2 separate regions of the Homo sapiens genome follow, and region 2 is linked to region 1. A link means that fine-mapping ties the variant in region 1 to the expression of a gene that starts in the linked region. Tissue or cell type: monocytes after R848. Region 1 holds a variant in brackets; the other region holds the start of a gene. All regions are shown on one strand. Distances are from middle to middle.

Region 1 (7,959 bases):
GACCAGCCTAAGCAATATAGCAAGACCTCATCTCTGCAAAAACTAGAGAAAATTAGCTGGGTGTAGTGGCATGCACGTACAGTCCCAGCTACTTGGGAGGCTGAGGAGGGAGGATTGCTTGAGCCCAGGAAGTCGAGGATGCAGTGGACCATGATCGTGTCACTGTACTCCAACCTGGGCAACAGAGTGAGAGCTTGTCTCAAAAAAAAAAAAAAGCTATATATGCAGATTTATCTATAGTCTTATAATCTTCATATATTTAAACTCTCACTCAGACATCAGTGCTGTCTGTTAGCACAACAATTACAGTAGTTTAGTAGTTTCTGTTTAAGAATATTCAGTAGAAACTCAGGTTCTACATTTATACATTCCCTGGCTTTTTATTGTTGTTGTTTTTATGAGCTTCTCTCTAACTTCGTGAGTGTGAGTGTGTGTGTGTATGGGTGTGTGTACACAGCTGGGAGCTGAATTTTTATGCTCCTTAAAAATCCTTCTAGTTTTATTTCTTTGAGAGATATCAAGGAATGGCAATGCCTATTAGCCATCAAGTAAGAGAAAAGGAATGCAGAGAGCATAGTAGTGTACTTAAATGGAGCTGTGGAGAATAATATAAATCAAAACTGTCATTCTTGAAGAGCCTAAAGTTGTACTTCTAGCTGCCACAGATATCTAAAATAAGAATTAATCTGCACATTTTTATCTACTGATAAATACATTGTTTTTATTTGGCCACCACAAAATTGCTAGCATTCCCTCTTTTCACCATTTCTGTAACTCCTATCACTTTTATTTACCTGTATTTAAATAATCCACTCTTTAATACCTTAGGGTAAGAGTATGTTAAAATATGAGTGAGCTGGTTGAGAACTCTACTAACATTATAACATGATTTTTATTCCTTTCATGCAGCATTTCAATTTTTAAAAAGCTTTATATTTTCAATATCAAACTTAAGCTAATTTTTAAAAAGAAACGTTAACTGAAATTGATAATAGTCCTTCAATTTTTCAGCCAAATTTATAAAAATCAGACTGTGTTTATGTGATTTCTAGCAACTGGCTAAAAAATTGGAAAATGTAAAACTAGCTATCTGGTGTCAAGTAATTATTTTTGCTGAATTTTGATGAATTATTTACCTCTTGGGTTAATGTGTATTTTAAAATCTATTAACTGGTTAATTCAGGAAGTCCAAATTTGTGTGTACATATAAAATTTTGAGAGTTGTTTTGTAAAAGCAGAGATTCTCAATATTACCTGTGCTGGTCTCAAACTCCTGGCCTCAAGCAATCCTCCCAGCTCGGCCTCCCAAACCTACTGGGGTTACAGGGGTTAAGAGTTTTGTGGGGTTTTTTAAATGTATGATAACTTTGAATAAATTTATCTTCAATACATTTTCCGGGAAAGCTAAAGTGCTTCATCTACAAACACTTAAATCTAGAGCAGGGGTCCCAACCACTGGGCCACAGACTGGTACCAGTCTATGGCCTGCTAGGAACCCTGCCGCACAGCAGGAAGTGATCAGCAGGGCTACAGAGCTTTACTGCCCAAGCTCCACCCGCTGTCAGATGAGCAGCAGCATTAGATTCTCATAGGAGTGCGAATTCTATTGTGAACTGTGCATGCGAGGGGTCTAGGTTCACACTCCTTATGAGAATCTAATGCCTGATGATCTGATACTGTCTCCCATCACCCCCAGATGGGACCCTCTAGTCACAGGAAAACAAGCTCAGGTCTCCCACCAATTCTACATTATGGTTTGTATAATTATTTCATTATATATTACAATGTAATAATAATAGAAATAAAGTTCCCAATAAATGTAATGTGCTTGAATCATCAGTCAGTGGAAAAATTGTCTTCCAGGAAACCAGTCCCTGGTGCCAAAAATATTGGGGACCACAGATCTAGAGCATTACAGAAAAACACAATGTGGTTGCTGTTTTTATGTAACTATGACTTACAAGTAGTAGCATTCCTCCCTCTTGCCCAATTCTGTCTTGTGTCTTGGAATTGAACACTCACCTCCCATTTATTCCATGAATTCGAAGAGTGTGTCTTGTACTTCTGGGGCAGATTTGTTCCAAGGGTGTGTACATCAGTTGCTTGGGTTCTTCCTTGCTGTTTTTGAGGCATCAAGAGCAGCAGCATCTTTTTCTTCCCCTGCTGGCTTCCCTGTTCTGTCTTCCTCAGTAGTAGAGGACTTTTGTTTGTTATGTCTGGCTTGGTAGGGACTCTCCAGGGGTCCCTTATTCTTCCCTTCCGCTTCCCTCAATTCCTATTCCCTTTCATCCTCTCTCCAGGTCCAGAAGCTGGTTTTCCTCTTCTGATTTATGCCTGAGGCAAAGCAGCTGTCTTTTAAAGATAAGAGCCAGAAAATAGATATCAAACAGACATAAAGAATAACATAGGAAAGACAAGAAGTCCCTAAAAATAGCTTTGTCATTAGCTGTTTTTATGCTGAACACCTAGATTTATTTCCCATTGTCCTTTTGCTTGAACAAACCAAGTCAGTCAAACTACCTCACCTGATGAGAAAGAAAATGGTGAAAAGGAAATCCTCTAGGCCAGGCTGATTTAACCAAAGTAATATAATATGAAAAGTGTCTAACTTGAATCTTCTTTTTTGGTAAATATTAAAATTATAGCGTAACCACAAAGGAAGAGTTTGGGGATACAAACAAAGAATAGGATAAAAAGACTTACTGGAAGAAAATGAACTGTGAATACCAAGTAAAATGAGAAGTAAAGAAAGCACATGCATATAATATATATATTTAAATAAACATGCATAAGAAAGCATGAAGCATAGTATGATTTTATATACTACATATTCACGGGAGGATCGAGGAGGAGAAGTCAAAGTTGAATGGCTGCACTCATTGAGCAGGAGAAACCCTGAGATTCCAAAGAATAAGGTAAATTGTCAGCTGCCACTGCCACCTCTATGTTTCCTTTTGGGAGCTGTGGTCCCAGAAGAGGCAGATGTAGAAGAGAGCCTTTAGGATGAGGATGATGGTCCCAGTAATGCTTTGCTTCCCTGGATATTCCTCAAGGGTAAAATTGCATCACAAATGTATATGCATCAAGAACTAATGTAACTGTTTCATCTGTAGGAAGTAAATTACAATGTAGTAAAGAGAAAAGTCAATGCATACTCTGCATAGGGGTTATGTGCATGGGTTTCAGTGTCAGACAGGCAGTGTTAAGACCCTAGGACATGTAATCTAGAACCTTGTTACACAATGTATGATCCACAAGCCAACAGTGTTGGCCTTGACCTGGGAGCTGATTAAAAATGCAGAATCTCAGGATTCACCCCAGACCTACCAAGTCAGAATTTGCAAATTATCAAGACTCTTGGGTGATTCTTTTGCACATAAAGTTTGAGAAACACTGGTCTAGGGTAAGTTTCTTAATCTATTCATGTCTCAGCTTTCTCATTTCTAAAATGGGCATACTAGTACCTACTTCCTAGAGTTGTGGGAATTAAATGAGGAATACATGTAGAGAGATAGCAAATTTCCAATAACTGCTAATGAAGACAAGTCATAAAATATGGTTCAGGATTTTGAAATTGAATTCTATGCTCTGCTGCACACACAATTAAATTTAACTAAAGCTGAGTTTTAATTATAAATGCTAACTGACTTTTATGACCATTTCTCCAAATGAAATAGTCACTTAAAAATGAGTAGATTCTGGAGGAGCCAAGATGGCCGAATAGGAACAGCTCCAGTCTACAGCTCCCAGTGTGAGCGATGCAGAAGACGGGTGATTTCTGCATTTCCATCTGAGGTACCGGGTTCATCTCACTAGGGAGTGCCAGACAGTGGGCGCAGGTCAGTGGGTGCGCGCACCGTGCGCGAGCCGAAGCAGGGCAAGGCATTGCCTCACCTGGGAAGCACA[A/C]GGGGTCAGGGAGTTCTCTTTCCGAGTCAAAGAAGGGGGTGACGGACGCACCTGGAAAATCGGGTCACTCCCACCCGAATATTGCGCTTTTCAGACCGGCTTAAAAAACGGCGCACCACGAGACTATATCCCACACCTGGCTCAGAGGGTCCTACGCCCACAGAATCTCGCTGATTGCTAGCACAGCAGTCTGAGATCAAACTGCAAGGCGGCAGCGAGGCTGGGGGAGGGGCGCCCGCCATTGCCCAGGCTTGATTAGGTAAACAAAGCAGCCGGGAAGCTCGAACTGGGTGGAGCCCACCACAGCTCAAGGAGGCCTGCCTGCCTCTGTAGGCTCCACCTCTGGGGGCAGGGAACAGACAAACAAAAAGACAGCAGTAACCTCTGCAGACTTAAGTGTCCCTGTCTGACAGCTTTGAATAGAGCAGTGGTTCTCCCAGCACGCAGCTGGAGATCTGAGAACTGGCAGACTGCCTCCTCAAGTGGGTCCCTGACCCCTGACCCCCGAGCAGCCTAACTGGGAGGCACCCCCCAGCAGGGGCACACTGACACCTCACACGGCAGGGTATTCCAACAGACCTGCAGCTGAGGGTCCTGTCTGTTAGAAGGAAAACTAACAACCAGAAAGGACATCCACACCGAAAACCCATCTGTGTATCACCATCATCAAAGACCAAAAGTAGATAAAACCACAAAGATGGGGAAAAAACAGAGCAGAAAAACTGGAAACTCTAAAACGCAGAGCGCCTCTCCTCCTCCAAAGGGACGCAGTTCCTCACCAGCAACGGAACAAAGCTGGATGGAGAATGATTTTGACGAGCTGAGAGAAGAAGGCTTCAGACGATCAAATTACTCTGAGCTACGGGAGGACATTCAAACCAAAGGCAAACAAGTTGAAAACTTTGAAAAAAATTTAGAAGAATGTATAACTAGAATAACCAATACAGAGAAGTGCTTAAAGGAGCTGATGGAGCTGAAAACCAAGGCTCGAGAACTACGTGAAGAATGCAGAAGCCTCAGGAGCCGATGCGATCAACTGGAAGAAAGGGTATCGGCAATGGAAGATGAAATGAATGAAATGAAGCGAGAAGGGAAGTTTAGAGAAAAAAGAATAAAAAGAAATGAGCAAAGCCTCCAAGAAATATGGGACTATGTGAAAAGACCAAATCTACGTCTGATTGGTGTACCTGAAAGTGACGGGGAGAATGGAACCAAGTTGGAAAACACTCTGCAGGATATTATCCAGGAGAACTTCCCCAATCTAGCAAGGCAGGCCAACATTCAGATTCAGGAAATACAGAGAATGCCACAAAGATACTCCTCGAGAAGAGCAACTCCAAGACACATAATTGTCAGATTCACCAAAGTTGAAATGAAGGAAAAAATGTTAAGGGCAACCAGAGAGAAAGGTCGGGTTACCCTCAAAGGGAAGCCCATCAGACTAACAGCGGATCTCTCGGCAGAAACCCTACAAGCCAGAAGAGAGTGGGGGCCAATATTCAACATTCTTAAAGAAAAGAATTTTCAACCCAGAATTTCATATCCAGCCAAACTAAGCTTCATAAGTGAAGGAGAAATAAAATACTTTATAGACAAGCAAATGCTGAGAGATTTTGTCACCACCAGGCCTGCCCTACAAGAGCTCCTGAAGGAAGCGCTAAACATGGAAAGGAACAACCAGTACCAGCCGCTGCAAAATCATGCCAAAATGTAAAGACCATCGAGACTAGGAAGAAACTGCATCAACTAACGAGCAAAATCACCAGCTAACATCATAATGACAGGATCAAATTCACACATAACAATATTAACTTTAAATATAAATGGACTAAATTCTCCAATTAAAAGACACAGACTGGCAAGTTGGATAAAGAGTCAAGACCCATCAGTGTGCTGTATTCAGGAAACCCATCTCATGTGCAGAGACACACATAGGCTCAAAATAAAAGGATGGAGGAAGATCTACCAAGCAAATGGAAAACAAGAAAAGGCAGGGGTTGCAATCCTAGTCTCTGATAAAACAGACTTTAAACCAACAAAGATCAAAAGAGACAAAGAAGGCCATTACATAATGGTAAAGGGATCAATTCAACAAGAGGAGCTAACTATCCTAAATATTTATGCACCCAATACAGGAGCACCCAGATTCATAAAGCAAGTCCTGAGTGACCTACAAAGAGACTTAGACTCCCACACATTAATAATGGGAGAGTTTAACACCCCACTGTCAACATTAGACAGATCAACGAGACAGAAAGTCAACAAGGATACCCAGGAATTGAACTCAGCTCTGCACCAAGCGGACCTAATAGACATCTACAGAACTCTCCACCCTAAATCAACAGAATATACATTTTTTTCAGCACCACACCACACCTATTCCAAAATTGACCACATAGTTGGAAGTAAAGCTCTCCTCAGCAAATGTAAAAGAACAGAAATTATAACAAACTATCTCTCAGACCACAGTGCAATCAAACTAGAACTCAGGATTAAGAATCTCACTCAAAGCCGCTCAACTACATGGAAACTGAACAACCTGCTCCTGAATGACTACTGGGTACATAACGAAATGAAGGCAGAAATAAAGATGTTCTTTGAAACCAACGAGAACAAAGACACCACATACCAGAATCTCTGGGATGCATTCAAAGCAGTGTGTAGAGGGAAATTTATAGCACTAAATGCCTACAAGAGAAAGCAGGAAAGATCCAAAATTGACACCCTAACATCACAATTAAAAGAACTAGAAAAGCAAGAGCAAACACATTCAAAAGCTAGCAGAAGGCAAGAAATAACTAAAATCAGAGCAGAACTGAAGGAAATAGAGACACAAAAAACCCTTCAAAAAATCAATGAATCCAGGAGCTGGTTTTTTGAAAGGATCAACAAAATTGATAGACCGCTAGCAAGACTAATAAAGAAAAAAAGAGAGAAGAATCAAATAGACACAATAAAAAATGATAAAGGGGATATCACCACCGATCCCACAGAAATACAAACTACCATCAGAGAATACTACAAACACCTCTATGCAAATAAACTAGAAAATCTAGAAGAAATGGATACATTCCTCGACACATACACTCTCCCAAGACTAAACCAGGAAGAAGTTGAATCTCTGAATAGACCAATAACAGGATCTGAAATTGTGGCAATAATCAATAGTTTACCAACCAAAAAGAGTCCAGGACCAGATGGATTCACAGCCGAATTCTACCAGAGGTACAAGGAGGAACTGGTACCATTCCTTCTGAAAGTATTCCAATCAATAGAAAGAGACGGAATCCTCCCTAACTCATTTTATGAGGCCAGCATCATTCTGATACCAAATCCGGGCAGAGACACAACCAAAAAAGAGAATTTTAGACCAATATCCTTGATGAACATTGATGCAAAAATCCTCAATAAAATACTGGCAAAATGAATCCAGCAGCACATCAAAAAGCTTATCCACCATGATCAAGTGGGCTTCATCCCTGGGATGCAAGGCTGGTTCAATATACGCAAATCAATAAATGTAATCCAGCATATAAACAGAGCCAAAGACAAAAACCACATGATTATCTCAATAGATGCAGAAAAAGCCTTTGACAGAATTCAACAACCCTTCATGCTAAAAACTCTCAATAAATTAGGTATTGATGGGACGTATTTCAAAATAATAAGAGCTATCTATGACAAACCCACAGCCAATATCATACTGAATGGGCAAAAACTGGAAGCATTCCCTTTGAAAACTGGCACAAGACAGGGATGCCCTCTCTCACTGCTCCTATTCAACATAGTGTTGGAAGTTCTGGCCAGGGCAATCAGGCAGGAGAAGGAAATAAAGGGTATTCAATTAGGAAAAGAGGAAGTCAAATTGTCCCTGTTTGCAGACGACATGATTGTTTATCTAGAAAACCCCATCGTCTCAGCCCAAAATCTCCTTAAGCTGATAAGCAACTTCAGCAAAGTCTCAGGATACAAAATCAATGTACAAAAATCACAAGCATTCTTATACACCAACAACAGACAAACAGAGAGCCAAATCATGAGTGAACTCCCATT
Region 2 (6,480 bases), 190 kb before region 1:
GAGGCACAGAAATGTTAAGTACCTAATCCAAGTTACACAGCTAGTAAATGTCACTGCTAGGAGTTAGGCTGCACAGTTCATGCACTAACTACTACACCATGAAGATGAAAAAACTGAATCATTCTGGACTAGTCAAATTTCTTAACCTTAATGTGCTTTAAATCTGCAGAATGGAGATCAGATCCCATTCTAAAAAGTACCCTGCAGAATTCCATATCTAGTCGACACTCAGGCATTCTCAGATTTAATTCTCTTCTTAAGCAACCCCACAGGTTTATGTCATGAAGTAATGTGTAATTTTGCTAGGATACAAATGTCAATGACAAAAGCTGTGCAAGGCTGGCCCACCAAAATAGGACACTTGGTTGATACAGGAAGGGAAACCAGTAAGGAACCCAACATTGACATGAGCATGTAGCTTTATTTTCCTCATCTCCTGGTGCACATTAAAATTCCAGAAAAAATGGTATGGCATAGTGGTATTCTCAAATTTGGAACTTGTAAAAGTTTTAAGATGTATCGCTAGACAAATGTCAAGGACCCACTCCATGTTCCTGGCTGACATCCTCTGATATGGTCACCTGAATTATACATTTTTCCATAATTAAGGAAAAGCAGATATTGTATGCATTTAAACATATTATCTCTATTTAAAGACTGATAATACACAGCATTGTTTATGAAGAGAACAAAATCATATAACTATATTAAGAGACAAGTTGCTATGGTAACCATTTCTCTGCTTAAAAAGAGAGGCAAACCCTTGTGTTATTGGAAGATTCTCTCAGCTTTTAATAGCAAGCATTATGTATTATTTTATGTATTGGGCCTGCTTTTTGTCTTATACGAGATAAGTTTCCATGTTACCTTACTTAACAGAATAAGTCATATTGAATATTTAATAATTAAATGGAAATTGTATTGGGTGATGCACCCTCAAAGGCAAATAAAAATTATGATTAAATATCTCACCGAGTATGTTAACAGATGATCACACATACCTTGAAACAACTGCGTCATTCTATAGTCAATAGTTTCAATTGTCTGTAGATGTTATTTATTTCCAGAAAACTATTTCCTAGATTAATAGAGGAAAGTTAACATATAAAACTCTGTATTTTACACCAAGATAATTTTTTACCCACATTATTTTCTTACGTTTCATTGGCAGATCCTTTCCTGCTTTCCCATACAGTGATGGATGTATTATAATAAAAAAGGCTTTCCTAATCAGTGCCAATACTTTCCAGATTTCCTGCAAACAGGAAAGATCATAAATTTTCTTATACTTTAACAACACTTCCCCAACTCCATTTAGCCACTTGCTTGTTGCACTGACCCAGATAACTACAATTTCAGAACATAATAACAGCAATAATAATAATATCACTCATTAAGTTCTTGCCTAATATCAGTATTAGTTTGGTTCTAAGCACTTTGCATGAGACACCAAATTTACAAACTTAGCACAACTAAGGGAATCTAGAGGCAGTGTGCATTTAAAGATCTCATATTTGTTTATAAAAAAGAGATAATATTTAGCATTGATTTTAAGGGTTTCTCTTTTAATCCTTACAATAACCCCATGAGCTTACTGCTAATGTATAGATCAATTTCCATGTCCTGTAAGTTTTCCCTGAATTGCACAGATTAAGAAACTCAGTAACTTTCCCTCAGGTGTCATAGTTTATGAAATAAAATAAGCTATGTGTGGAACGTAAATGTATTAATAAGATTCAAAAATAAGTGTTCATACCAAATAAAGACAGAAAATTGGCTAGTGAAACACGTAATGAACATTCAACACTCCAAATCACAAATGCAAAAGACACCAACATTTCCTGTAATAATACATGAAAGCATCATTTTTGCTTTTTGTTTTTTCAGTATCCCTGGCATTGTGAATTTATACTTTACATAAGCAATGACATTATGAATACTATATTTATACCTGAGGAAGCCTAGAACTTAAATATTTGCAAATACATCAGATGAACATATGGTTGCCAGTTGTTACTGCTATCTCATTTTCTTTCTGTAAGAAGATGGATTAGTGAATTATAGTAATAAAAAAGCAAGCATGCTTAAGTTAAAGCCTTTGCCTATGATTTAGATAGTTTCTTATAATACATTGGTGTATGAAAGGAAATCAAATTATTTAACTGACTAGATTTTCTATTCATACACAACTATTTCCAGTAAGCACTCCCACAAACTGTTTATATAGTATTAGTTAGAGGATATAATGAAAGAGCAATAAAACAAACTTCTTTATCACTGCACTTAATAAACACCTGAAGTTCCCCAATGCGAACTTTCAGTTATAAATAATTGACTGTATCCACATTTTTCTGAAATCTGATAGACTGTGTCACCTTGCACTTAGCCTATAATGGCACTTAGTTTTTCCTAATTCTTCTCTATGCTTCAAATTTTTAAAAAATCAGTTCTGTTTAACCTTGTGAAGATGCAAACTGGTGATAGAATGGATTTTCTACGCTTTTAAGTAGATAAAAAAGGACATTCTTAATTATTCCAGGTATGTGTTTTACCTCAATCATTCCTTATGCCCTGTATGTCCTGAGAGCAAGGCCCATTCAGCCAAGAAGATATTATTTGAAGTCTTTTGTACATAAGTAAATTGTTTTCTGAAGTCAAATCCCAAAGGGCTTTGCAAAATTTCATTTAGTCAGGTGGGCCAAGAGCAACTACTACTTTCTGTAAGTTCCAATAATCTTTCTGGCCCTATGGGGGCATTTACTCTATGAATTATGCCTAAATACCCTAAGGAAATTGAAACGAGTAATTTCTTTATTTCGCTAGTATTGGTTCAGACCACTCATTATATTAATTCTAAAAATCCTCCTTGGAGGCAGGTTAAGTGGCAGCCTCATTAGTAATGCTGCCCAGACAAGGACAAGAGGCTCTGTGGCCTGCCCAGGGACTGACTGTCAGGCGGCTGGCATCCAACTCCTGACCATGGGCCCATCCATTGGTCCTGAACACCCTAGCCACTGAAACCGCTTTTTAATTGGCTTAAATGGGCTTGTTTATTTTCCACTTTTCTGTTTATTGAAGTAGAAGTGGAAACTGGCCTTCAAAGACCAGTCTATCAGCATCTCCTTCCTTGGCTCGCCTGACCTTCAGGCAGTGCAGCTGCCTGAACTGAGTTAAAAATGGACTGTCAAGCTGGCTTTAATTTCTGCTGCTCTGCGTCCGAATGTCCTCCCACTGATCTGTTTATCACACCCTCTATACCCCTTCTGTTGTTGTTTTTCTAAGAGTTTTATGCCAGGACAGCTGAAACTGCCTTTCAAGGTTCTAACCTGCAAATCCTTCTACACATAATCCTAGAGGGCCTGGGAGCCAACACTGGGATCTCTACTGTAGGAACAACCTTCTCCCTCCAGGCATCCCCTAACGCACCCCAAGCTGACTCTCTGAACAGATCATCTCCTACTGGCACACCAAAGCGAGAAAACCGTGGCTTAATAACTTTGGAAGAAAAAAATCAGGTTTGGCTTCTTGCTCATGGGCTATGCGGGCATGTTGCCTCTTTCCAGGGCTCCTCTGCCTCTCTGTGTGTTCCTGTGCAGGACCGCACGGAGCCCTCACAGGGATTATCTGCTGATCCCCAGCAGAATATAAAACTCTTTATCTTCAGTCTCTGAAACCTCTTCAAAATATCCCAAACCAAAGATCCTCCCAACAGGGCTCGCCAGAAACTTCTGCCTCCGGAAATGACAGTTGCTCTCGATGCACGGATAGAGGAGTACCTAAGATCCTACTAATGGTATTGTGTGTTTCTTGGCAAACTCCCGCTCAATTCAAGCTCCCCGCGCTCTGGGGCAAGGTCTAATTAGAAGAGTGCCAGGCTCACCCTTCCTGCGAAGAAAACGCATTAGCCACAGATGTAAGTGCACGAAGAATGCCAGGGAGCCACGGAGTGCGTGGGGTCATTAAGGCCCTTCTTAAAATGCTGGCGAGCCTTCGATGCGGGAAAGGAAAACTAGATCTGACCGCTTGCAGCAGAGGAGGATACAGAAACCCTGGGAGGCAGAGTAGAGTTGACTGGGTTAGAGGCCAGAAATAAGTGCATAAATGATGCTCAGTGGACGTTGCAACAGATTTAAGCCAAGTGTTCAGGATGACACAGCAAAGCCCCAGGACAAGGAAATGCACAGATCGCTTAAAGCTTCCCGCTGCCGGGAGCAGCCTGAGTGTGAAAGCGCGGACGCTCGGGGAGGGGTCGCACTGAACAATCAGGTTCAGGCTTTGACGAGTCGTGCACCCGGAATTGCGGTCCCAGTGGCCCGAGATCTACCCTGGAAGCAACAGGTGTCCGCTCTACCACAGGCTTATCCTCAACTCCCTGTGGCTAGGCTCGGGCTCCCTGGAAGTGTAGAGGTTGAAAGGGGACCAGACTCTGGAGGGGAGGGGCGGGGCGCTGGCCGGGGAGGGGCGGTGCAGGTGGGCGGGCCTGAGCAGGGTGGGGACTGGACCTATAAAGTTCTCGCTGCCCCGGAGGCTATGCTACTGCGAGGAGCCGGCGCAGGGTGGCCCGGGAGGGGTGAGCAGGGTGCCGCTGGCTGCTGGGGTCTGCAGGTCACCGAGTCCCCAGGAGAGGGGACTCCTAAGAAGCCACCTGCCTGTGTTTACCCGGCAGCGAGCGCGCAGGCCCCCGCGAACTCCTGGCAGGTGAGCGAAGCTGCGGCCTTGGTGGGGGCAGCGGGGCCGGGGGGCGCTCCGCGGGGCAGGTCGCTTCCAAGTTTTGCGAACTGTTGAGTTAGTTTCAGGTTGCGGCTCCGCTCCCAGGGCTTTGTCAAATTGAGTTGCAGAGGCCGGTTCCACCCCTTTGGCAAAGGAGTTCCTCCGCTAGTTCGCTCCCGGGACGCCGGGCATTTTAGGAGCCTCTGCACGACTCGCCTGCTTTTGCAAATCCGTCTCTTCTCGCCTCATTTTTTCCAGCGCTCAGGAAAGGCCGTTGCGCCTCGCGAAGGAAACAGAGCCGTTGACCATGGTTGCAACTGGCAGTTTGAGCAGCAAGAACCCGGCCAGCATTTCAGAATTGCTGGACTGTGGCTATCACCCAGAGAGCCTGCTAAGTGGTGAGTGTCCCCGCTGTCCACCCTTCTCCCCTCCCAAGGTCGGTGCCTCTGGATCTATTGGGTGGGCGGGCTTTCGACTTCCTCCCCTACCTCTATGTAGGAGGTGCCACAAAATCCATCTGAGGAGACTCCTTTCCAAATTTTCTAACATCTTCTCTCCATGATAGAAACAAAAGTAGCAAAAGTAGAATACCCGAGGGCTGCATCTTTCTAGTCTGGTGCCAGTAGGCCCCTTGGGATTAAGTTCCTTATCTTACATGATTGTGAAGAACACAGTTATGTGTGTTTTAGCAAATGTATTTACCCTGTAATCAATATCGCCCCTCCCCCTGAATTCCGACGCACCTATTTGCCAGGTATTCCTCACTCTCCCCTGACTCCAGGGAACTACTGATCTGATTTTTATCATTCCAAGTTAGTTTTGCCTTTAGGTAAGTGGAACCATACAGTAGGTATTCTTTTGTGTCTGGTTTCTTTCCCGCAGCCTAATGTTTTTGAGATTCTTTTATGTCCGTTGCTTAAATCAGTGTGTTCGTGTTTATTGTTTATTACTGAGTAGGATTTTCAGTCGTGGATATATCCATTATTCCATTTTTAATGTGAGAAGGAAACTGTTGAACAGCAGCGGTGCTTGACTTGCTGTCATTTGGAATTTTAACAGCAGTTTCTAGGTGAACACACTGCTCTGACACTAAAGAGCTGTAAGAGCATAGATAAACTGCTTAAGCTCTTCGTGTTTTTCTCCTTTCAAGGTGAAGTGGTTGATGACCTAATTTACAGGCCAGAACTCCAAACTTACACGAAGTGGAGAGGAAAAGCCAGTGGCTGATGAAGGTGGAGTAGGCTTAGAGAGAGGAGCTGGGAGGGCATCTGCCTGCACCTTGTTCATTTGACTCCGTGTGGTGTGGCATCCTGCCAAGGGGTAGGATTAATTTGAGGTGTAGGTGACCAAATGCAGAGCTATCTCTTTTCCTTTGAGCCCAGCTAATTTTATTTCCCTAGGACTATTTTGTTTTGCTTGGCTAAGAAAAACCACCCAGCCGGTTACAAATATCCTCATGAACCTCAAAGGTCTTCTCTGCACAATTTTTAATTAAAGAGGCTAAAGCTAAAATTGGGACCTACAGGCCACTCCAGTAAAGACTTAAAGACACAAATTTGATAGATCTTTAATATAACTCTTAAAGCTTTAATACAACTCTTCAAACATAATAGTAAAAATTCTTTATTTTACAATACATGTATTCCTACAGTTAGAAAGTAACAACCCCTTAGTCCAAAAAACAAAGTTATAACTTTTTATTCCAGAAGTAATGCATGTTTTCTGTAAAACAAAATTAGAAAACCCCCATAAGCAAGTAGGAGAAAAGAA

Evidence for each region. PIP is the estimated chance that this variant, and not a neighbour inherited with it, causes the effect.
Region 2: it holds the start of DDIT4L, and the variant in region 1 is fine-mapped to the expression of DDIT4L in monocytes after R848 (Quach 2016, PIP 0.95).

What each region holds. Positions count from the first base shown.
Region 1 is chr4:100,002,295-100,010,253 of GRCh38, reverse strand. All of the region lies in intron 1 of H2AZ1-DT (H2AZ1 divergent transcript), which reads right to left. Among named protein-coding and RNA genes, the nearest start is that of H2AZ1-DT, 56 kb to the right of the region's middle. The variant A/C (reference allele first, on the strand shown) is at 3,907.
Region 2 is chr4:100,188,521-100,195,000 of GRCh38, reverse strand. It overlaps DDIT4L (DNA damage inducible transcript 4 like), which reads left to right and starts at 4,533. Exons shown (of 3, transcript NM_145244.4): 1 at 4,533-4,698; 2 at 4,969-5,108. The coding sequence starts at 5,018. DDIT4L-AS1 (DDIT4L antisense RNA 1) reads right to left here and starts at 4,968. Exons shown (of 5, transcript NR_125924.1): 1 at 4,927-4,968; 2 at 1,952-2,035; 3 at 1,159-1,255; 4 at 1,002-1,078.